Linked DNA regions of Homo sapiens. The protein of the gene in region 4 purifies or fractionates together with the protein of the main gene of each other region. This does not show direct contact. Each region holds a gene or a part of one and is shown on either strand. Other genes may lie near its edges.

Region 1 (3,500 bases), on a different chromosome or scaffold from region 4:
TCTTTTGTGAGAAAATTGCCCCAAATCCTCCTACTACAGAAAGTGTTGATTTTTCAAGCTAATTTTTCATTCTCCTCACTGACTAACAAAGTAATATCCAGGCTGGGCAACATAGGGAGACCTCATCTCTACAAAAAATTTAAAAAATTATCTGGGCATAGTGGTAAGCACCTGTAGTCCCAGCTACTCAGGAGGCTGAGATGGGAGGATCACTTGAGCCTTGGAGGTCAAGGCTGCAGTGAGCCGTGTTTGTGCCACTGTACTCCAGCCCAGGTGACAGGGTAAGACTCTGTCACACACACACACACACACACACACACACACACACACACACACACAAAGTAATATCCATTTCCCACATTTCTCATGAACTTTTAACTGCTGTTATTCCTATCAGTCATTTATGTTCCCACCTATTCTTTATTTAAAAAGAAACAAGACCAAAGAAGTGAGCCTCTTCTAAACTTGTCCTTTCTTCCACTCATATTTATCCTTTGTGTTTCTCAGAAATCTACAAAAAATTATAACCAAAGCAGCATAGGAAAGCCGACTGTTACATGGGAACATGCTCCCCACAACAGGGCTCTGCTGTTTAACCTCCCCCAGCCTCTGGCTGGGAAAGCAGAGGTCATTTCTGGTACATAAGACCCAGGTGCCTGTAGGAGAGATGCCGACAATGATTTCAGGCATATGAAACATTTACAACTTTATAGAATAAAATGTATATTCGACCTGCACAAGAATTGTTTAGGCAAAAAATACATAGAACTATTCAACTGTGATCACAGCATGCCTCACTTCTCTTGATCTCTGTCAAAACTTGCTTTAGCTTAAAATAGACTTTTTAGGGTCTGAGTCCTGGGACATGTTATGTATTTGGGTGTCTAGCCTTAACAATCTTTCCATCGGCCAGCAAATATTTGCAGCAACGAAGAAGAGTAGACTTAATCTCATTTTTGTCAAACTGGTAACAGAAGCTCTGAAGGGTGATTAGGGTGATGTAGGCCCAGGAGCCTGTGCTGTTTAAAGCAGCAAATTTGACTAATTGCTTTTTTTTCTATTGTATTCCTCACACAGACTTGATTCTTAGATCAAGAATTATCATTTTTGACTTTTTAAGTTTCAGGGACCATTTTTAAAATAACATTTTTAAGATGACCTACGCATAGGTCACTATATCACTAAGTCACAAACAGGGCCTGAGGCCCTTGCCACTCTCTCCAATCCTGTTTGAGGAGCTGGGTCCAATATCCAGAAACATGGATGCAGCTCCGACAGCCAGGAGCCAGCCTGGAAGAAGCTGTAACACGTCCTCTCAAGGTTTGAGATGGGAACAAAGTACATGTCATCATTCAAAATTTCCTAGCTATTTTGATGAAACTGTTTAATGCACATGTTTGAGTCTGTCTTAAGACTTTTCCCCCCTTTATTAGGAAATATTTCAAAGAAGCATGTAATGTCCCTGAGCCAGAAGAGAAGTTTAATATGGACAAATACACAGACCTGGTGACAGTCAGCAAACCAGTCATTTATATTTCAATTGAAGAAATCATCAGCACACACTCAGTAAGTGGGGATGGGGAGCCATCTTAGCAATGGACCCATGATTTAGGCATCTGTTATCTTGAAAATGCTTAATCTCTACAGGACTTATTGTACACATGTGCTAATACTCATATTCTTAACCCTAAAAATCTCGCAATTATTTATTCCATGACTCTTATACATTAATAAAACTCCTTCTCCCAAACAACAAAATTCTATTTTTACATAATTATTCCCTGACTCCTAGACATTAATAAAACTTCTCCCCAAAAAAGAAAGTGTACTTTTGGCATAATCCATTTACAAAGCCAGATTGTGACTGGAATGGTGGCATATGCCTGTAATCCCAACACTTTGGGAGACTGAGGCAGGAGGATCACTCAAGCCCACAAGTTTGAGACTAGCCCGGGCAACATAGTGAGACCCCTATCTCTACTAAAAATTTTTTAAAAACTAGCCGGGTTTGGTGGTACATGCCTGTAGTCACAGCTACTTAAGAGGCTGAGGTGGGAGATCACTTGAGCTCAGGAGTCTGAGGCTGCAGTGATCTATGATCGTGCCACTGCACTCCAGCCGGGGCAACAGAGCGAGACCCTACCTCAAAAAATAAATAAATAAATAATAAAAATAAAGCCAGATTGTAAATATGCAGTTTAAGCCCTGAGCCAGGACAGGCTATGGTGTTCTCATCCGCCAAAGCTATGCTATGTAGACCTACACCCTGTCTCTCCCCTCTTCCAGGAACCCTCTCAGCTTTTCCAGTAATTTTCTGGGGGAAATGAGAATATTCTTTTTATTCTAATGTTTTAACATAAAGTGGTAATAAACAGGCTACGCAACGAAAACAAGAAACTACCACCCAATAGTAGCCTTCTGCAAAGAATCACTTCCATTGTTCTGGAAACCCCCATTTCTCGGAAGCAGGCAGTTTTTCACATCATGTGCTGTGTTATGACATCTACATCTGGTTTGCATGCAGACATCACTGCCGTCAGCCATTAGCATGTATTAAGTATCTGTTGGGTGCAGGGCACTGTGCTCAGTGGCATGGGGAAGGAATTGGGAGGCTTTAGATGACTTTTCAAACATTAAAATTAAAAAAAAAAAAGCTAAGCATTGAGGGGTTTGCATTGTTTTCTTTTTAAGATCAATTGGAACTTATTTCATGAAAAAATCTTGGTTTTTAAAAGGTAACCATTTCAAGAATAGTTTCAGACCTTGTGAGTTGAAGCAAGGTCCTGGGGATATGTTAGCAATGCACCCTGGACCTCCCAAATTAGAACCTGCATTGTAACAAGATCCCAGAGGATTCAGATGCACATTCAAGTTCTAGATGCTTCAGTTAAGGATGCACCCAACTTTGGATTATACAGAGAACCAAAGGGAAAGCATAACAAATACACATTCTCAAAGGTTGTGCTCTAGCCCCCATCAAACCAGACATACTGACAAGTGGCAGGTTAGCTGCTTAAAATTTCAGTCTATTATTAAGCTCTTCTAAGAAACTAAAGCTTGAATGTAGGTTTGAAGGAAAGATTGAATCTAGTATTGATTTTCTTCTTTCAGGGTTGAAACAGGGAACTTCCCTGACATTTACATCAAGCTCTCAATACATACTGATTAAATGAATAGGCTATCCTTCTTTTCTCTATATATGAACACCCTAGATTACAAGGAAAACTGTCCAGCAATCTAGCAATGCATTACTTACAGAAATAATTATCTACTGGACAGACTCATTTATATTTGAGCAATGACCCATTTGTCTGTTTTTGTGGTACATTATCTGTCTTCAAAGAATATGTACATCTTGGGTGCACATTTGCTGAATGCAATATCCACATGCGAAAAAAATGGTGGGGAGTACTTGTTTAGAGTGAGAGATTCTTTCCCAAGGGTAGCAGAGAGAAAATGTTACTGTATTAATTTAGAAGTCTTAGAAGTCTTTAAGGAGA
Region 2 (3,500 bases), on a different chromosome or scaffold from region 4:
TGCCCAGCGTGGCCCATCAGGGTGCTTCATGCATGGCTGTGTGCTTGCCATCCTTCCTGCCTGCCTACCCCCTGCTGCTTCGCTTCGTGGGGGCGTTTGAGCTTGGGCCCACCTGCCTGCCTCGCTTGTGGGCAGAGGACCCAGGCTGTGTGAGTTGTCCTGTCCCGGGGAGCAGCTGAGCTGGTCGGGGGTCTCGACCTGTGGGGCTCAGAGGACTCGGGGTCATTTCACTGGGCTGTGGCGATGCTGGGCTGTGGAGGTAGGCCTAGGGCTCCTGTAGGCCTCAGTGAGACTGGCGGCCGATGCCCAGTGTTCACCCTGCTGGCGGCAGTCAGGAACATGTTCACAAAGGCTTTACCTTCAAGTGGTCTAGAGGTGATCTGAGGTGGAGTAACAGGTCCAGATAGGCTACGTTCATAAAACAGCTTCAGCGGGGTTTAGGAACACTGTGCATTTACGGGACGCAGTGGGTCAGAGTGCTGCTGTCCGTGGGAGGTGGCCCCAGGGCAGGTCAGTGGGCACGTCCTGTGGTAAGTGGGACTGTGGATGTGGGCTCAGGCTGGACTCAGCAGCCCTGCTGGATACCAAGGCCTGCAAGGGCTGGCCCCCTGGTGAATTGTCCCGTGCCCTGTGTATCTATGAGTCCTGCAGAGATGACAAATCAGGGGACGGGGTCATGTCTAGTCACCGTCTGGGAAAATGCTCCAGGAGTGAACACATTTCAGGCTCTTGATGGATGTACCTCCAAACTCTTCTCTGGATGGGTGGGCCAGCTTGCATGCCTGTGCCGGCCTCTGCCCAGCGAGGTCAGGGCCAGGCCACACAGTCAGTCTGACTTTGGCAGAAGTTGAGAGGCAACACTTGTCTCTTGTTTCAGCTTGCCTTTCTTTGTGTACTTCTGAGAGCGAGCATTCTTTTCATGTTCTATCCGCTGGCCGTTCTTCTGCGGAATGTCTGTTCACGTCCTTTGCAGTCTGTTAATGAGGTTTCCAACCTTCCCTCATTTTTGTAATCTGTAAGAACTTTTTACAGACTAGCGATATAAATCCTTGTCAAATATTGCAAACACTTTTCTCATTTCATCTGGTTTTAATCTATCCTGGTTTTTAAAAAATGTGTCTGTGGAAGTTTAATTTTTATGTAGTCACATCTCAGTTTTTTTCCATTGCATTTATTCTCAGAATGCTTCTCCCTGCCCTGAGATTAGATAAGCAGTCATTTGTTCTTTCTTGAGTTATTTTGAGATTTCAGTTTTAACATTTTCTTCTATAATCCATGTGGCTGGGTTTTGGGATCTGGCTAACCCCCGCCATGCCAGTAGCCTGAGGGGCCCAGCCCCACTTGTTGAACAGCCGCTCTCCCCGCCCCACCCACCCTGCCTGCCTGCCCACCCGCCCTGGTCTCTCCAGGAATCATGTTCGTTCAGGAGGAGGCCCTGGCCAGCAGCCTCTCGTCCACTGACAGTCTGACTCCCGAGCACCAGCCCATTGCCCAGGGATGTTCTGATTCCTTGGAGTCCATCCCTGCGGGACAGGTAATGCCCTCTTCCCGCTTCTGGGGACCATACATCTGTGGGTGGACTCTTCTGCTTGGGGTTGTGTGCAGTAGGAAGTGGCCTAGCTGGAGCTGAGGCAGATGCTTCCAGGGTTTGGCGTCCTCTGCTTTGTGCCACGGTCTTTCTCTTGGACCTGTCTCTGGTTGAGTGTCTTCCTGACAAACACAGTGGTTAAGGGTTTATTTTCAGCCTCCCTCCTTCCCTTCCCCACCCACCTTGGTTGATGGGAACAGGCAGTTCTCTGTCACTGGGCCCAGGGCACGAGGGGGGCAGGTGGAGAGGGTGGCCCTTGACCCTGTGAGCAGGCTTCCCTGGGGAAGGCATTTCAAAAGACCCTCGTGCAGGGGCTTGTTTGGGTTTCTTCTCTGTTTCCTGGCACCCCTGGAGCCACTCGGCGCCTTTCCGCATGTCACCCTGGTGGTCTGGGAAACAGTCTCACTCTGGCGCCTCCTCTGTGGTTGTTACTGAGAGTTCTGGGGCCCCTTCCTTTGTCCTGAGGAAAGACAGGAGGAAAGCAAGGGTGCTTGCTGTGTGCTTCGCAAATGTGCTTGGTGCCTGGGCCTCCCTCCAGCCCCATCTCTGCAGCAGCACAAGGTTATGGCCTTGTGACACTGGGACAGTTTGCAGAGTCCTTGTCTGTCCTCAGTACTCCACAGTATTCTGCCATCACCCTTTCCAGGGTCACACAGCAAGAGATTCCCAAGCCCTAGGTATTCCCCAGTGCACAGAGACCATTGGGAGGGACTTGCCAGGGCTGTGTCCACTGCTGGCCAGTTAGGGTCGGACCAAATTTGTAGACTGTCTACCTGGACCCTTGCGTGGCACAAGGAGCAGTCAGATGCTGGATCCCTGGAGAGTGGCGAGAGGCTCTGGCCCTAGGTTGCGAGTGGGAATCCCAGCCCTGCTGTGTGCTGGTGGGATAACCAAGTGGGTCTCTGCCCTTGGGTCCCAGAGTGGGCCCCAGGGTCCCAGAGTGGGCTCCAGGGTACAGCGTGGGGATGGGGAGCCTCCTCAGGGCGGTGATGGAGGGCAGAATGCCCAGCTCAGGGTCTGGCAACCAGTAAATGGCTGGGGCTGGCTGCAGTAGGTGGGGACTGACTGTGTTTCTTTCTCCATCAGGCAGCTTCCGATGATTTAAGGGACGTGCCAGGAGCTGTTGGTGGTGCAAGGTAAGGAAGAGGTTGGAAAGGGACCTGGGCCTGGCCACACAGCCTTATGCACACACACTGCTGTGGGCCAGGGGTGGCCAGTCAGGTTTTTTTAAAAATCCGTTCACAGAAGGCCTATAGAACTATTTCTTCCTCTAAAGAGACACAGATGAGATGGACTTTTCAATCTGTTTCCAAATTCTAATACCTAAACTCTGCTCAGCACATGTTGCCCTACACCAGGGGTTGGCAAATCAAGGCCTGTGTGTGGCCCACAGCCTGGGAGCTAAGAATGACAGTTACATTCTTTTTTCTTTTTTTGAGACTGAGTCTCGCTCTGTCGCCCAGGCTGGAGTGCAGTGGCGTGTTCTTGGCTCACTGCAACCCCCGCCTCCCAGATTAATGCAATTTTCCTGTCTCAGCCTCAGCCTTCTGAGTAGCCCGGACCACAGGCGCACGCCACCACGCCCAACTAATTTTTTATATTTTTAGTAGAGACAGAGATTCACCATGTTGCCTAGCTGGTCTCGAACTCCTGAACTCCAGTGATCCACCAACCTCGGCCTCCTAAAGTACTGGAATTACAGGCATGAGCCACCGCGCCTGGCTAGAATAACAGTTACTTTTTTTTTCTTTGAGACTGAGTCTTGCTTTGTCACCCAGGCTGGAGTGCAGTGGCCCGATCTCAGCTCGCTGCAACCTCCGCCTCCCGGGTTCAAGCGATTCTTCTGCCTCAGCCACCCAAGGTGCCCGCCACCACACCTGGCTAATTTTTCTGTTTTTAGTAGGGACAGGAT
Region 3 (3,500 bases), on a different chromosome or scaffold from region 4:
TTTTTTTTTGAGACAGAGTCTTGCTTTGTCACCCAGGCTGGAGTGCAGTGGTGCGATCTTGGCTCACTGCAACCTCTGCCTTCCAGGTTCAAGTGATTCTTCTGCCTCAGCCTCCTGAGTAGCTGCGACTACAGGTGTGCACCACCACACCTGGCTAATTTTTGTATTTTCAGTAGAGATAGGGTTTCAACCATGTTGGCCAGGCTGGTCTTGAACTCCTGACCTCAGGTGATCCGCCTGCCTCGGCCTCCAAAAGTGCTGGGATTACAGGTGTGAGCCACCACGCCCAGCCCTAAAATCTCTTGTTCTACCTTTTCTTGTCATCCTTTCATTAAAAAAAAGGAAAACCATTTATGCTACATTTTAACATCAAAAAAATATTATGTTTTGGATTTTCTGCACCTCTGTCCTTCAGAGTCAGAGATAATTGAGAGTTAAGTACAATCAACCTTAAAGTTGCCTTGCAAGCCACCAGGAAAGGCAGATATTGGAGAGGCAGAAGCTAGCTTCAGGATCATGTCCCTATAGTCAGTAACACACCAGCACCTAGGACCCTGCCACCTCTGCTCTTCTCTGGCCACCTCGAACAAACTGTTTTCCTTTTCCCAGGGCCTATGACCCTGCAGACTATGAGCATTTGCCAGTTTCTGCTGAAATTAAGGAACTCTTCCAGTACATCAGTAGGTGAGTACTAGGACCTCCCACCATACCCCACTATCCCTACCTTGCCCCAAACCTTTCCTATCTCTAGTCTGAAACAGGGCCATTCCCCTTAGATTTTTTTTTAGCCTGAATAGTAAAGTAACTTTTTCTGACTGTCTCCACCTTCCCTTGGCAATATCTCCTAGGTACACACCTCAGTTGATTGACCTGGACCACAAACTGAAGCCTTTCATTCCTGATTTTATCCCAGCTGTCGGGGATATTGATGCATTCTTAAAGGTATAGTCAGTACATCCTGAAAATGACTCCTTAAGTGTTTCTTCTGATGCCCCTGTTACTCTTAACAGTTTCCCTAATTTCTTTGACTAGCATTGGCTAGTCATGTTCATTTCATTGGAGTTCTTAACCTTGCTCTCAACTCCAAATTACACTCATTGCTCTTAAGTAATACTTAATATCTCATTACACATTAACAGTTTGTCATGTATTTGCTTCCTAATTATCTATGACAACAGGTTCATATTTAAGCTGCTATGGATAATATTTTTTTTCTGGATAGTATTGCGTACAGCATGATAAGCATGCTTTTAATACTAGTAATAATGATGAACCAGAAGTGTTCTTCCTCTTAACTTATTGGAAACATTTTCCTTTCTGCTTTCTTACCTTTTTCTTAACCAGGTCCCACGTCCTGATGGAAAGCCTGACAACCTTGGCCTATTGGTATTGGATGAACCTTCTACAAAGCAGTCAGACCCTACGGTGCTCTCACTCTGGTTAACAGAGAATTCTAAGCAGCACAACATCACAGTAAGATACTAGCTTAGTATAGGCCCCAGCTGGAGAGGGCCAAGAGTGGAGGAGGCCTTGCTGGCACTCATACAGTTGACTTACTGCCTGTCAAAAGAGATGGGCCTGGGTGCGGTGGCTCACGCCTGTAATCCCAGCACTTTGGGAGGCCGAGGCGGGTGGATCATGAGGTCAGGAGATCGAGACCATCCTGGCTTAACATGGTGAAACCCCGTCTCTACTAAAAATACAAAAAAAAAAATTAGCAGGGTGTAGTGGCGGGCGCCTGTAGTCCCAGCTACTCAGGAGGCTGAGACAGGAGAATGGTGTGAACCCGGGAGGCGGAGCTTGCAGTGAGTCGAGATCATGCCACTGCACTCCAGCCTGGGCAACAGAGCTAGACTCCATCTCAAAAAAAAAAAAAAAAGAGATGGTTATTGCTTTGGGCCAGCTCTATTTTTAAATGACAGCTTTATTTATATATAACTTAAATACCAGCAAGTTTAGCCTTTTAAATTGTACAACTTATTAGTTTTAATATAATCACAGTTTTGTAGCCATCACCACTACCTAATTTAGAATATTTCATCACCTCAAAAAGAAACTTCATACCCATTACTATTCACTCCTCATTCTCCCACTTCCTCCTAGACCCTGGTAATTATTTCATTCCTTTGTTATGGCTGAATAATATCCACTGTATGGATTTACCAGATTTGCTTTATTCATTCTCTAGTTCTGTCCACTCTTATTAATAATGGTGCTTTGAATATTTGTATACAAGTTTTTGTGTAGGTATATATTGTTATTCTGTTGGGTATATACATAGGAGTAGAATTGCTGGGCCATATGGAAACTCTATGTTTAGCCATTTGAAGAACTACCAAACTGTTTTCCAAAGTGGCTGTACCATTTTACATTCCCACCAGCAATGAATGAGAGTTCCAGTTTCTCTACATCCTCATCAATACTTTTTGTTTGTATTTTTCATTCTAACCATCCTAGTAGGTGTGAAATGGTATTTCTTTTTTTTTTTTTTTGAGACAGTTTTACTCTTGTTGCCCAGGCTGGAGTGCAATGGCGTGATCTTGGCTCACCACAACCTCCACCTCCCGGGTTCAAGCGATTTTCCTGCCTCAGCCTCCCGAGTAGCTGGGATTACAGGCATGCACCACCACGCCCAGCTGATTTTGTATTTTTAGTAGAGTCAGGGTTTCTCCATGTTGGTCAGGCTGGTCTCGAACTCCTGACCTCAGGTGATCCACCCACCTCGGCCTCCCAAAGTGCTGGGATTATAGGTGTGAGCCACCAAGCCCAGCCTAAATGGTATTTCATTATGGTCAGTCCTGCCATTTTGACCTGCTGCCTTTCCATGGCTTCAGCAAATTATTTTTTTTTGAGACAGGGTCTCGCTCTGTTACCCAGGCTGGAGTGCAGTGGTGTGATTGGGGCTCACTGTAGCCTCGATCTGCAAGCAATCCTGCTACCTCAGCCTCCCAAGTAGCCGGGACAGACCACAGGTGTGTGCCATCATGCCTGGCTAGGTTTTTTTTTTTTTTAATTTTTATTTTATAGAGGTAGGGTCTCCCTATGTTGTCTAGGCTGACCTCAAGTGATCCTCCTGCCTCAGCCTCCCAAAGTGCTAGGACTGCAGGTGTGAGCCACTGCACTTGGCTTTTTTTTTTTTTAAAGACAGGATCTCGCTCTTGCCTAGGCTGGAGTGCAGTGGCACAGTCGTAGCTCACTGCAACCTCAAACGCCTGGGCTCAAGTGATCCTCTTGCCTCAGCCTCTCAAGTAGCTGAGACCACAGGCACACACCACCATGCCTGGCTAATTTTTAAATTTTTAGTACAGACAAGGTCTCACTATGTTGCCCAGGCTGGTCTTGAACTCCTAGCCTCAACTGATCCTCCCACCTCAGACTGCCAAAGTGCTAGGATTACAAGTGTGACCGCCATGCCTGGCCTGGCTGCAGCAGATTTTATCAGGGTTTTCTATCCCCTTCATTTGGCTACTGTTTCACGTGGCAGCAGCTGTCATCAGCAA
Region 4 (3,500 bases):
TAGACGGTGGTAGTGTGTTAGTGCTGGCTTCCTGTTTTGATGATTGTATTGTGGGGATGTAGGAGAAAGTCCTTATTTGTAGGAAATACACGCTAAAGTATTCAGGGTATTGGAACGTCTGGTCAGCAACTTACTGTCACCTAGGTTGGGAAAAACGCTTTGTGTTGTACAACAGGTTTTCCGTAAATTTTTGATTGTTTCTAAATTTAAAAATTAAAAAAAAATTATTATACCTCTTATCCTTGCCAGTGTTCTAACTGAATCAGGTGAACACGGCATGAATGTGCCCTTAGCACTAATATGTTAAAAGTAGAACACCCAAGAGAGGACAGGGTTCATTTCTTGGTAGACATCTCTTAAGACTCCTTTCATTGTTAGAAAATATCTGTGATGTTTGATCATTCTAAAAACAACCAAAACAACATGGGTACTTAAAAGGGTTTGGGGAGTACAGGCCATTTATTTCAGAAACCAGGGAAAATTGCTTGTGTTTACACAGCTGTTTTGCATTGTGGATCTTTCTTGTTTGAGGAACAGATATGTTTAAGGTGGGATAAATTTACTAGGTTTTAATCTGACTTTGGTTCGAGGAAACAGTTGCCATTAACTGAAGTTGTTTAGAAAGGAGACCCACCTTTCTTCCTGTGAGGGTGAACTCGCATTTCTCCTGGGGGCTCTAAGGCACTTGCAGCAAATCGATGATAAGGGTCTGATTATTTTCATGAAAGTATCTTAGAAGTGGCTAGTGTACTTAGACCAAAAAAATTAGACCATAAACGCATTGTCAGTAACAGTGGCTGGTTCCAAAACACACCATGCCTGAGAGTTGTGGAGAGTGTCTGGGCTTCGTAGGCCATTTCTCTGTGGAGCCCATAGCTTTTCAGAGACTTGCAGGAAAACAGAGTAACCCCTTCGTGGGATGCTACACATAGGCAAAGAGCTGGAGGGGAAGCCCCACCTTGGCCACCAGGAACTTAATGCAGGGCTGGAAAGCCAGAACCCTGGGGGGCAGTTCCACGCTCAGCTGGGTGGCAGTCCAGATTCCTCATAAAGAGATTGGAGCCTGAACCCCAGGCATGTGATCCAGCCAGCCACCGGACAAGACGCATGTGAAGACGGCGCACTACCAGTGACTCTACCTGCTTCAAATGAACCTTCTCTTAGGATAGGGAGACTTGTGTCACCGTCAGTGGGCCCGTGTCCCCCTTCCCTTCTTTACTCAGCCTCTGTTGCCCAAGGGCCTCTGTCCAACTGTTGCCCTGGACCCCTTCCAGAGCTGGTGCACACCAGTGTGGCCATTGCCACTGTGGGAACTGCTTTCGTACTGTCTTCAGAGTGGTTTCTCCTCGTTTTTAGTCTGTAGTCAAGCTTCTGTTGCCAGGGAGAGGGAAGAGGACCTTCTCTCAATCCCAGCAGGCAGTGGGTTAGGGCTGGGACCAGCTGTTTCTTTCTCTCCCCTCCTAGTAGAGCAGTACTTGGTGTGTGTGGGTATTCTGTAAGTCGGGTGTTTGTAACTAGGGGCATGGCCCGAATGATAAAAAGGCAGACTGACCGTCCAGAGTGATGTGCACCTTGTTCTAACCGAGTGAGCCAGAGAAAAGACTGCAGGCCTCTCCACCTTGACCAGGACACTCTTCTTTGCATCTTCACTTCTTTCCCTGGGTAGAAATGCCTGCTTTTCATGGGGAAAAAAAAAGAGATACCTTTTTCTGGACCTGTGTGACATTCTCCCTGGAACTAGTGGGTTAAGTGAGTCATTGCTTGGGGAAGTGTCTATTTGTTTGCTTTTGTGTTTGTTGAGCATAATGTTGCTATGCCTGAAGAGTTGCAAAATTCTTCTAAGAATTAGGATGGCTGTTTTTATTGCCACCTTGTCTCATTATTTCCCATTAAATATAGACACAGGTTCAGAAGACTAAAGACCTGCTCAATAATGTGGCCTCTGATGAAGCTAATTTAGAAGCCAAAATCGAAAAGAGAAAATTAGAACTGGAAAGAAATCGGAAGCGACTAGAGACTCTGCAGAGTGTCAGGTAGATATGAACACTTGGAGAATGAGTAGAAAGATGTCCTGGAAAGTTCAAACAAACTGGGCGTGGTGGCTCATGTCTGAAATCTCAGCTACTCATGAAGCTGGGGCGGGGGGTTCTCTTGAGCCCAGGAGTTTGAGACCAGCCTGGGCAGCATAATGAAACCCCATCTCTAAAAATTTTTAAAAATTACCTCAGTATGGTGATACACACCTGTAGTCCCAGCTACTTGGGAGGCTGAGGCGGGAGGATTGCTTGAGCCCAGGAGGTTGAGGCTGCAGTGAGCTATGGTTGCATCACTGCACTCCAGCCTGAGCCACAGAACAAGGCCGAGTAACAGAACAAGGCCCTGACTCTAAAAGAAAAAAAAAGTTAGAACAAAGACTTAAGAGAATAGAATGTGATCTTAACTCTTCTCAAGCAATGAAAAAAAGCCTTACATAAGGGTATCTTCACCTCAAATGTACATGTGTTGCCTGTCATAACAAGCAGATGGCTAAACTCATTCTCTTTACTGCTTGCGGTATGTCTGGAAAACTGCTTAAAGCTTGAACTGCCCTTTAAGCTTTTATAGCTTCTTGGAACTCAAGGCAGAGTAAGTGAATCCAGACGGGGAAATCCAGACGTGGTCTCCTAAGATCTTGCCATAAATTAGGTAGAAACAGAAACATACTCCTGCCTGTTTGTTGGCATAGATTTTAGACTTTATTTAAACCTTGATCATTCCTCACCAGTCAGTAATTCATCTTTCTTCCTACGTTACCTCATTGGAAATATATTTCCCAGGAATACCGATGGAGAATAGTGGTGCCGGCTCTCTCTCTCTTCTCTTCCTCGTTCTGTGCCTCTTTCCCTCCCCCATGCTTCTGCTCTTTCTCCCTTTTCATTCACCCTTTATTTTTCTTTCTTCTTGGCTCCCTCCTCTTCCCAGCTGCCTACTCTGCTCGGATGTTTTGCCTTTTTGGATGTTGGTGGCTGGCTACACCCTGCCCACTGTCCCGAGGTCTGTGGGGAGGCAGCACCTGGAGGCAGCGACAGCAACCACAGGGAGCGCCCTGGCTCCTCCCTGCCCAGCGCAAGGCCAAGGCCCTTCCCCTCCTGAAACTGGCTCTTTACCTCTGGAGCCTCAGAGAGGGAAAAAAAAAAAAACAGAAGTCATTGCCGCCATATAGATTGATCTCCTTGACACATTCCACTTTTAAAGCATCAATTCATTTTTGTTAAGCTCCAAATCATTTTAACAGAAAAGTCTCTTTGTTTTGCTCTAGTTCAAAAGATTATAATTATTTCTGAGTTTATCTGCTTATATTTTTAAAAGAGTAGAATTTTCCCTTTAAGGTCAATAATAAGAAAAAAGAAAAAGTTCAGCAAACCAGTATAGATTTTTATGGTTTTTTTTGTTTTTGTTTTTTTTTTTTGAGTTGGAGTTTCGCTCTTGTTGCCGAGGCTGGAGTGCAATGGCGCGATCCC
Region 5 (3,500 bases), on a different chromosome or scaffold from region 4:
GCATTCAACAAGCCTAGAAAAAGTGGGGCAGGGCAGGAAGAGCGGGGGAAGCAACAGATCATGTTCCAATGCAGGGATGTGTGAAACTATATAGCATTTTCAGGAATTTTAAGAACTTCAGTTTGGCAGAAATAATGTGCATGGGAGGGGTGGTAGCAGCCGGTGAGAGAGAAGTTAGAGATGTAATCAAGAGCTGAATCATGGAAAGTTTTCTATGCCACAATAAGGAATCTATATTTATATCTAGCAGGAAATCAGGAATATTGAAAAGGTTTTGAGAAAAGAAAGATACAGTGATGTTCGTGTTTTAGGAAGGAAGACGTCTCTGGTGGTAGTGTACATACAGCATATCCTAGAAGTCAGAGGCAAGACTAGAGGCAGAGAAACTTATAAAGTAGTTCAAGCAAGACATGATAAGGGCCTGGACTAAGTTAACAGGGGTAGGAATGAAGCCAAGTGGAAGTATGAAAGCCATGGAGGTAGAACTGACAGAAACTAGTGACTAATTGGATATATAGGCTGAACATTCCCAAACTGAGTATCTAAAATGTTCCAAAACTCTAAACTTTTTGAGTGCCAAGATAATACTTTAAGGAAACGCTCATTGGAGCATTTCAGATTTCAGATTTTCAAATTTGGGGTGCTGAACCAGTAAATACAAAACAAATATTCCAAAACCTGAAAAAAATCCAAAATCCAAAATACTTCTTGGTCCCAAGCATTTCACATAAGGGATATCAACCTGTAACAGATCACAGAAAAGAAGGAATCTAGGACATCAGGTTTCTCGACTGAGGACAGGGAAAGAGAACCGACACAGATTTTGAAGGAAAGGTTACATAAGAAATAATTGAAAAAGAAACATCAAAACCTAGCAGCATCTATAGACTTTAATCAAAATGGCATAATAGAAATGAAAGCATGTGAAGAATTCTTTTATATTTTTACTCACCTCAGAATCACAGCTGCTAAAGCTAACAACAGCAGAATTTTTATCCACATCAAGTAAATCTATTGGAACATCACTCTATAGTCAATATTAAAAAAAAAGAAGGTTGAGATGGAAAACCTAAAAATGTTCATAAATTATGTTTTCTCTAAGAGTTCTCCTTAGTTCTAGTTTATATTCATCTTTAAATTTGAGAGTATGAATTCTCTTAACTTATACTTGATAGTATATACTTCCAGAAAATAAATATAATAAAGAATAAATGTTATTTTACAATCACCTGCTTTTTTCTAACTTGGATTATAAAAATCACAGAATAACATCTCTCACCACCCCCTTAAAAGTCCAATCATCCCACTTATTTTTATAAAGTGCTAAAAATGTTACCATGAGCTATAAATAATCACATGGCCATTCTGATTGTATCAGTTCATTTTTATCAGTTTTAATTTTACCTGTAACACAGAAAGAAGATAATTTTTGGTCTCCTCTGGAGAGGCAGTTTGTAGGACAAAGCTGTTGCACTGTCCTATGTGAATGGCATTCCTAGAGTTGTTCAATGCAACAGCCCGTGAGCTAGCATTACTTAAGAGAGTTTTCTGCCTTTAGGTTTTTTTTTTAATAATCTGATCTCTCCATTACATCTTTTTAAACCTTTTCTTCCTCCAATTTGTTATGTTCTCATTTTGTGATTGGTTTACTACCTTTTGTTTGTTTTCTATTCATCCTATTATTCTTTTCTACTTCCTGAATACCTTCTAATTTAAATAAGTCAGTAAATATATACATTGATGAATGGAGTCATATATTATTATCCCTAAATTTCACCCTTTAGTATTCTCTACTTTGCCTGTTGACCTACCAGAAACTGTTGGGTTAATGAGCAAGCTGTACTTTAATGTTTGGGGCTTTAAAAAAAAATGTTCTAGCAAGGGCATTAAATATGGTAGTTTTCTAAGTCACATCTCTGTTAAGATTCTCCCAGAGGGTAGCCAAAGAAGAAAAACCTTACTGTCTTTTCTAACTCTTCTTAAAACTGAAGCCCATCTTTTGTTTGTTAAGTACATAAATAAAAAGTAAAAATATAATTCAAATAATCTGTGAGCAAACCAATTATCTAAAGGAAGAATAAAAGGCCATAAACATTTAAAATTACTGTCTATGACTGGGTGGGGTGGTTCACGCTTGCAATCCCAGCACTTTGTGAGGCCGAGGCGGGTGGATCACCAGAGGTCAGGAGTTCAAGACCAGCCTGGCCAACATGGTGAAACCCCGTCTCTACTAAAAATACAAAATTAGCCAGGTGTGGTGGCACATACCTGTAGTCCCAGCTACTCGGGAGGCTGAGGCAGGAGAATCACTTGAACCTGGGAGTCGGAGGTTACAGTGAGCTGAGATCGCACCACTGCACTCCAGTCTAGGTGACAGAGTAAAACTCTGTCTCAAAAAAATAAAAATAAAAATAAAAATAAAATAAAATTACTGTCTAAAACTAAAAATGTTCAATAATAATTAGTACATATGACTGGTTTGCAAAATAGATCCAGTCATAAAACTAAGAAATTAGACATTTTGCTTACCTGTATTAAGACATTATCTATTGCAGTCTGTACCTCTAAGATAAGGCTGTAACTGGCATCATCTTTATTTAGTGTAAATTTATCATTTATACCAAAGGAAGGTACTGCTGATTTTGCTTTGCTTGATTGAGAAGACTGTTGATAATTCTCTCTTTCCTGCAATACCTTATACTGCAAATGTTCCAACTCATTCCTGGAGAAAAACACATACAAATTTGTCAAATATAAGTATAAACATTTGAGGTCGTTAGGATGTTTACAAAAATTTGAGACATTTGCTTTTACAAAATGGGTTTTTATTGGTTGAGTTAATAAAATAAAAACAAAGGGAGCAAAATTTTTGCTTCTATGACTGACTAAATGATTCCACATTATTTATCCTTAACCCCAAAATTAAAATATCTACTCATTCCCATACTAGCAATATTAATAGAGAGTTTTAAATATCATGGTAGGCTACAAAATAATCTTAACACAGGAATCTTGTTACAGTTACATAAAGTACTAATCAGAAGAGAAACTTCTTATACTAATGAGAAGAGAAACTAATATTGCAGAACATATTAGTCTTAATGAAAAGAGACAAAATGTGTGAAGCCAGTAAACACGTAACTTTCAGTAAGACATTAGGGGAGACATAAAAAATAAAAAGGAAGCTGCAGAGCATTAGCATTTTGGGGACCACAAGGATGATCATGAGCCAGTGGTATGGCTTAACTACCAAGAGTTAGAGAGGATTCTGCTGAGACTGAACTACAGCATTGCTTAGAGCTCCAGTTAAGGGGAAGGGCCACATGCAAATGGAGTAAACAGTCATTGGGATAGAACAACATGAGGCTTAACTAGCCACAGTTTAGGAGGAAAAGTCTAGGGAGGAGCTTAGAAGGGATCTGTGTAATGAACAAAGGAAAAGATTCATTCATCAAAGAAATATTTACTGCTAAATATTACATATTTACTCCTATGTACCT
Region 6 (3,500 bases), on a different chromosome or scaffold from region 4:
TCGGAACAATGCCAAATTCAGAAAAGCTCTACTTGCTCTGTGTTGTATGGTTGCGAACATTTGGAAGATTAGTTACACAAGACTATATTTTACCATAGGGTTTTTTGGAAACATACAGAGTAACTTCCATGTTGTTTCTGATCCCAGTGCTCTGTGTAGTTCCACTGTGCATGATAATCTCAGGCAGAGGGAAAAAGAAATATAGGGACAAAAACATACAGCCAGATTAACACTTTACTTACTTTGTTTACAATGTTAGTACAGACCTTGAAGATTGAAAAAAGCACGTCTAAAGAGCCAGTTGATTTTGAGCAATGGATTGAAAAAGGTATGTGTTTCACCAGCATTGTTCTGAGCATGAAGGAGTAGATAATATTCCTTTGATTCTGCATTTCTCATCTAGCTGCACTTTGGTGAAAAAAGATGACTTTAATGATCCTTGTGACACATTTAGGGTCTAGAAAGACCCAGGTTTGAATACAAAGCTGCTTCTTCATTTACTGGTTATATAAGTATTAACATGTGACTTAATTTTTCTCAGTTTCAGAATCCTTATTAGGAAAATGGTGATGATATCTATCATTCAAGGTTTTGGTGAACTAGTGTCTGGCATATAATAGACAATAAATATTAGTTTCTCATCTTCTTTCCTTTTGTCCTGATTAAGGGTACTATTTAAATATCACCAGCAGAATTGATAGCCTCTACTTAATTAAACACAGCATCTTGCCTTCATATGTCTATTTTCCCTTTCAAAATACCATGAAAATAATATTAAAGGAATAAAAAGAGGCATAAACCTACAAGGACAAAAGATTTAACAACCAGCAAACTAAAGCAAATGTGAGAGATCAGTGTATATTATGATAAAGAGAAAGCAGATTGAAGAGTAGTAACTTCTTTAGCTGAATGAACTGTGTTATAACCTAAGGTCTTGACAAGGAGCATGTCAATAAGAAGCAAGCCACTTTGCCACACAAAACCCCAGAAAGGCCTAGAGCTCAAAGGCAACAGGTGCCATGGGAAGTATGAATGAGACCTGGGTCAGAAAACAAGGATGATTAGTTGAACATCTATTTACAGAGTAATCAGACTCTAGGTACCTTCTTCCGTCCTACAAAACTAGGTGACCACTCCTTTATCCCACAGACCTCCACCACAACCCTCAAGAGACAACTGCAAATATAGAATGTTGAGGCTCAGGAGACCAGATATAGTAGGGAGTGAGTGAGACATGGAGTTGAAAATACGATACTAGTGGAAGCCTACATATTGAATAGTGGGAACACCAGCCTCCTTCCTGTGTTCTGGTATTAACTTCAGCAGCCAAGAATATACCCTCAGCTGGGAGACTGGAACATTCATCTTTGGAGAAACTAAATGGCCCTAGAAAAAAGACCTATGGATACTGACAAAGGCCAGCTCATTTCTGGTCACCTTATTTAAGTCCAGTAATCAATAAGTGTGGCTCATGCACACAGTTTTCAAATGATGCACAGTTTTCAAATGATCCACAAGTAACAAAAGAAAGATCACAAGACATTAATGAAGACCTCAAACCCTGAATATAATCAAGCTTTTAGCTCTAATTTCCAATCTATAAGAAATGTAGAGGATAGAGGAACAAATTAAGTGAAACCACGAATAGACAAGATGATAAAATCTAGAATGTGGGGCCTGGGCACAGTGGCTCATGCCTGTAATCCCAACACTTTGGGAGGCTGAGGGAGGAGGATTGCATGAGTCCAGGAGTTCAAGACTGGCCTAGGAAACATGGCAAGATGTTGTCTCTACAAAAAAAAATTAAAAATTAGCCAGGGATGGTGACATGTGCCTGTAATCGTAGCTACTTGGGAGGCTGAGATGGAAGGACCACTTGAGCCCAGGAGGTTGAGACTGCAATGAGCTGTGATCATGCCACTGCACTCCAGCCTGGGTGACAGAGCAAGACCCCATCTCTTTAAAAAAAAAAAAAAATCTAGAATGTGGGACATTGTACAGGACAACTGACCTGGTCTCTTCAGTAAGTCAAAGACATTAAAAAATGTGTGTAGGGGAGAGAAAGCAGTTGAAGGTTAAAAGAGACTTAATTCTGATTTTAATAAACCAATTAAAAAAGACAGGGACAATTGGGGAAATTTGAATAGGAATTGGGTTTCATATTATATTAAACCACTATTTTTAATGTTATGATGGTGGTATTATGGTTATATAAAGAATTATTATTTAGAAATGGATAATTAAGTATTTAGGGGAAGCTAGGCTCACGCCCATAATCCCAGCATTTTAGGAGGCTGAGGTGGGCGGATCGTTTGATCTCAGGAATTCAAGAAACTACCCTGGGCAACATGGAGAAATCTTGTCTCTACAAAAAATATACATATATATTTGCTAGGTGTGGTGGCATGCACCTGTAGTCCCAGCTGCTTGGGAGGCTGAGGAAGGAGGATCACTTGAGCCTCAGAGGTGAAGGTTGCCATGAGCTGAGATTGTGCCAGTACACTCCAATCTAGGCGACAGAGTGAGACCCTGTCTCAAAAGAACAAAAAAGTATTTAGAGATGAAATGTCAATAATGTCTTACACTTGCACTTGCTTTAACTTTTTTTTTTTTTTTTTTTTTGAGACTGGAGTGCAGTGGCGCAATCTCGGCTCACTGCAACTTCCGCTTCCCAGGTTCAAGTGATTCTCCTGCCTCAGCCTCCTGAGTAGCTGGAATTACAGGCGTGCACCACGTTGCCTGGCTAATTTTTGTATTTTTGGTAGAGACAGAGTTTTCACCATGTTGGCCAGGCTGGTCTCAAACTCCTGACCTCAAATCGTCCACCCACCTCAGCTTCCCATAGTGCTGGTATTATAGGAGTGAGCCACCACACCTGGCCTAAAATACTTTAGTGAAAAAAAAAATTGATAAATCCACTATGATGAAATGTTAGTAATTATAAAATCTAGCTTATGGGTATATGTGGGAGTTTTTTTATGTTCTCTCCTAAGTATGTTTGATATTTTTCTTTTTTCTTTTCTTTTTTTTTTTTTGAGACTGAGTCTCACTCTATTGCTCAGGCTGGAGTGCAGTGGCGTGATCTCGGCTCACTGCAAGCTCCACCTCCTGGGTTCACGACATTCTCCTGCTTCAGCCTCCCGAGTAACTGGGACTACAGGTGCCCGCCACCATGCCCAGCTAATTTTTTGTATTTTTTTTTTAGTAGAGATGGGGTTTCACCGTGTTAGCCAGGATGGTCTCAATCTCCTGACCTTGTGATCTGCCCGCCTCAGCCTCCCAAAATGCTGGGATTACAGGTGTGAGCCACCATGCCCAGCCGATATTTTTCAATTTTTCATAACTAAAAAAACTAAGCAAATGAAAAAGTTTATTATTAATTTCTGGTGATAGAGTTGTACAAGAAAGAAAATATCATTATAATGTATTATTTCAGGAGTAAATAACCTTTAGATAGACAGAGTAATGTAACCATCAAGTAGGATTTCAAATTTGAGAGG
Region 7 (3,500 bases), on a different chromosome or scaffold from region 4:
GAGACATGGCAGCCTGTCAAGTAGGTATCTTACCTAGTGTCCGTAGAGCACCTGCCTCTTCAACCCTGACCTTATGACTTCACACATGGCCATCTGTAGTTATCGCTTATGGTGGTCCCTTCCCACGTTGTTTGTTTCTTTACAGGAATATCGCCAACAGTCTTCCCAATGTAGCTCTTCCAAAAGTTCCAAGTCTGCCTCTTAATCTTCCACAGATTCCTAACATTTCTACTGCTTCGTGGATGCCTTCTTTATATGAGTCCACGTGTGTATTCCTCACTTATTTCCTGGTGGTGTGTTAGCTGGTGCATGGCCTGGGCTGTGTTCTGCGCAGATGTGTTTAGACTGCATGGCATTTGTCATCGTTGGTTGAGGAATACTGTTTTTTTTTTTTTATTTGAGTTTTTAAGCTAGTAAGCTAAGCTTAGCATATCTGTGATGAATAATGTCAATTAAAAAGAAAAAACACGCTAGTTTAATGTAGTTCATATATAATCTGTGGGACAGGAATAATTTGGTGGCATTCTACCCTAAGTAAATCATTTGGTGACATTGTACCCTAAGTAAAATAATCAGAGTTCTCCTTATGTATACAAAGCATTTTGAGGATTCTTAGCTCCAGCTTTATTACTGCCCAGATGACTTATCTTGTGCAAGTAGAAAACCTTTGGAAGAATGGTTTCAAGAATATAATATTTTTCTATTTTTATCTTAGTCTCAACTTTTAAAAAACAGTACTGCATCATTGCAGGCCCTTTCATTGCCAAAACCAGGAAGTTCTTCTTTTGTTCTTTTATTATATAGTTGGTACATCTTGGTATTTTTAAATAGTCTTTATATCATCAAAAACCATATTTATTAACTTCACATCATGATGAGCTTGCCTATTGCAGAATCAGCAACTAAGAACCACTGAAGTGAACAGGAATGGGCTTTTAAATTGATCAGTTCTGAATTTAGATCTTAGCTTATTAATTGTAAATCCTTCTTAGCCTGAGTTTTTTCCTCAACTCTAAAACAATTATGACACCTAAATGAAAGATGTTTTTGTGATGATTTAAAAAAAAAAAACTGTATTGAGGCATATCCTAGGCTCTCAGTAAATTATTAGTACTATTGGCATATCCTAGGCACCCAGTAAATGATAATTACTACTACTCTACATTGTTGTTTTTGTTATTATTACTATCATCAGGCATCATCATTATAATTTATAATGGTATAGTTTTTAAAACTATGAGCCTCACAGCAATCAGAACCAAGTAATAGTACTAGTTTACAAATGGGAAAACTCGGGCAGTTACCTGCTTTGCCCAAGATCTCATATGAAATCAACTAGAAAGAATAATCATGAGAGGAAGAAAAATAGCTTCCATTTATTGAGATTTTACTGTTTCCAGTACAGTGCCAAGTTATTTATCTCATTTAATCTTTATAACAACCTCATATCATTATCCCCATTTTACAGTTAAGGAAACTAAGTCATAAAGAAACTAAGAAACCAAACTTACCCAATATCTCACAGCAAATAAGTGACAGAGGCAAAATTTGAACCCAGGTTCGTTTGACTACAAATTCCTCACTCCTATCATTAATTTGTTCTGCTGTCATAGAACGTTGTGTTTAAGAACTTGCTACTTTTCTACCTATCCCACCACCAACTGCAAATCCACACCCAGTCAGGTATGCACACAATCAAGAAAAGAAATAGGAAAAGACCAAGAAAGAGAATAACTTGCAAAGTAATTTGGCAATATTTCTCCAAGTTTAACATCATAACTGCATTCATAATACTCACTAGGATATTATGTTACATGTGAATTTTTTTTCTTACAGGCAAATGCTTTTGGTCATTAGAGTGTGTAAAGTGGTGTCTGTGTGTGCTCAGAAAATTGCCTACAAACTATAATGAACCTTTCTAAGTGTATGATTTTTTTGTTCTTTTTTACACTGTTTTATAATTTAACTCCTTTTCTTCCTAATTTCTCATCTATTTAACGCTTGATTTTAGCCAAGAACACTATCATGGGCATTATCCTGCGAAATTTATTTTTTTGTTAGTAATCTTTTATTAACTTTGGGATTTGTACAAACTCTGAATCCCTTATTGAGGGCCCTTTTTTAAAGTATGTTAATTTCAGGACAGGAATAATGACAAATTGGGGCTTTGTAAGTAAAGTGATTGTGCTTTCACCATTCTGGGGAAATTTAAAAATGTGTTTTACAAGTTGATCACCATTATCTTTACCTACCAAGGTTATCAACATTAGGTTCTTTGTCAGAGTGTCCAGAATTACTCATAATGTTATGATGTTATTGCCATTTGTTTTTTGAAGTTTGAAACATTAATAAAAAGAAACATTTATATTTAACATAAAGAATTAAAAATACAACTGCTGATTAAATAAGAAGAATATAAAAGCAACCATGGTTTTGAAGATACATCCCTGCCTACCAATGCATAAATCATGCAAGGATTGCTCATCGACATATGTATCTGTATATAAATCTTTATTCTGTTTTTTTTTCTCTAGAAATGAATGCCAGCAAGTTAAGTTTCCTGCTGGCATTTTTAGGAAATTATCTCAGAGTCTACTACTCACATTCGAATTCTTTAATCTGTTAATAATACCTTTAGGAATAGGCCACCAATTAGAAATAATTTTAAAATGAAAAAGCTCTGAATAAATTGCAGGTTATATGTACCAACTCCAGAGAAAGCCTACTCACATTTTTTTCATATATCTATCTAATTATAACAAACACTTGTTATCTTAATTACATTCCCAATTAAACACATTTATTGTCAAGAATCTTACCATAGAATCAAACAGAAGAAAAATGTAACCATATTCTCTATGAAGATTGCCATGTATTATTAGAAAATCTATTTTTAGTAGAATTCTGCCTTTACCATTAGAGATTTTGTTTTTATGATGTTTTTCCTTGTCATTGTGTTGTTAAAGAATATATACATTCCAAATAGTTACATTTCTCCAAAGTAAAAATATTATAAGAAGCAGATTTGCTTCTTTGCCAATTGTATTCAGTTATTCTTAAAACTCAGTTCCTCTAATCTACCAAGCTGTACACTGTGGATGTGAAGGGAGATTTTGTTTGTTTGTTTTCTCTTAATTGTATGATATATATGGCAAAAGGAGAAATAAAGGTAGTGTTTTTTTCAACACTTTCACTGTAGTATCAGAATGGTGTTGTCTAGTTCTCTTATTTAATGGTGCATTTGAGGCACTGAATATTACGGTGAAGAGATTTAAGTGAGTAAAGTGCTACGGGAGTGTTCAGTGCTTTGCTATGATTGGTCCCTAGAGAACTTAAGTCTGAGGGCATTTTGGCTAGACAAGGAGATCAGGAGGAATTACTGGCAGAATGAGAAGAGAAAAGCAGTGTAGGTTTGTGATAGAGCTTTGACGCTGAGGCCAGGGTGGAGGGCAGGAATAAGCTTTTCATTAGTCAAGAGCAAGAGGTGCCTTTTTTTCTAA

What was found.
Region 1: the proteins of CLUAP1 (region 4) and IQGAP2 purify together in Homo sapiens (affinity purification with mass spectrometry, with the first as the bait; one large-scale study listed by BioGRID). This does not show direct contact.
Region 2: the proteins of CLUAP1 (region 4) and NISCH purify together in Homo sapiens (affinity purification with mass spectrometry, with the first as the bait; one large-scale study listed by BioGRID). This does not show direct contact.
Region 3: the proteins of CLUAP1 (region 4) and IFT46 purify together in Homo sapiens (affinity purification with mass spectrometry; 3 studies listed by BioGRID and IntAct, with this or other methods). This does not show direct contact.
Region 5: the proteins of CLUAP1 (region 4) and BBS7 purify together in Homo sapiens (affinity purification with mass spectrometry; 2 studies listed by BioGRID and IntAct, with this or other methods). This does not show direct contact.
Region 6: the proteins of CLUAP1 (region 4) and IFT25 purify together in Homo sapiens (affinity purification with mass spectrometry; 2 studies listed by BioGRID and IntAct, with this or other methods). This does not show direct contact.
Region 7: the proteins of CLUAP1 (region 4) and CADPS2 purify together in Homo sapiens (affinity purification with mass spectrometry, with the first as the bait; one large-scale study listed by BioGRID). This does not show direct contact.

What each region holds. Positions count from the first base shown.
Region 1 is NC_000005.10:76,675,785-76,679,284, forward strand, and holds part of IQGAP2 (ras GTPase-activating-like protein IQGAP2), read left to right. Parts: intron 1-1,433; coding exon 1,434-1,566; intron 1,567-3,500. UniProt on the Homo sapiens protein: Binds to activated CDC42 and RAC1 but does not seem to stimulate their GTPase activity. Associates with calmodulin.
Region 2 is NC_000003.12:52,483,104-52,486,603, forward strand, and holds part of NISCH (nischarin), read left to right. Parts: intron 1-1,409; coding exon 1,410-1,534; intron 1,535-2,674; coding exon 2,675-2,724; intron 2,725-3,500. UniProt on the Homo sapiens protein: Acts either as the functional imidazoline-1 receptor (I1R) candidate or as a membrane-associated mediator of the I1R signaling.
Region 3 is NC_000011.10:118,552,432-118,555,931, reverse strand, and holds part of IFT46 (intraflagellar transport protein 46 homolog), read left to right. Parts: intron 1-609; coding exon 610-684; intron 685-848; coding exon 849-942; intron 943-1,344; coding exon 1,345-1,473; intron 1,474-3,500. UniProt on the Homo sapiens protein: Forms part of a complex involved in intraflagellar transport (IFT), the bi-directional movement of particles required for the assembly, maintenance and functioning of primary cilia. May play a role in chondrocyte maturation and skeletogenesis.
Region 4 is NC_000016.10:3,518,004-3,521,503, forward strand, and holds part of CLUAP1 (clusterin-associated protein 1), read left to right. Parts: intron 1-1,899; coding exon 1,900-2,033; intron 2,034-3,500. UniProt on the Homo sapiens protein: Required for cilia biogenesis. Appears to function within the multiple intraflagellar transport complex B (IFT-B). Key regulator of hedgehog signaling.
Region 5 is NC_000004.12:121,842,975-121,846,474, forward strand, and holds part of BBS7 (BBSome complex member BBS7), read right to left. Parts: intron 2,723-3,500; coding exon 2,530-2,722; intron 1,028-2,529; coding exon 953-1,027; intron 1-952.
Region 6 is NC_000001.11:53,925,200-53,928,699, reverse strand, and holds part of IFT25 (intraflagellar transport protein 25 homolog), read left to right. Parts: intron 1-259; coding exon 260-328; intron 329-3,500. UniProt on the Homo sapiens protein: Component of the IFT complex B required for sonic hedgehog/SHH signaling.
Region 7 is NC_000007.14:122,389,961-122,393,460, reverse strand, and holds part of CADPS2 (calcium-dependent secretion activator 2), read left to right. Parts: coding exon 1-20; intron 21-145; coding exon 146-265; intron 266-3,500. UniProt on the Homo sapiens protein: Calcium-binding protein involved in exocytosis of vesicles filled with neurotransmitters and neuropeptides. Probably acts upstream of fusion in the biogenesis or maintenance of mature secretory vesicles.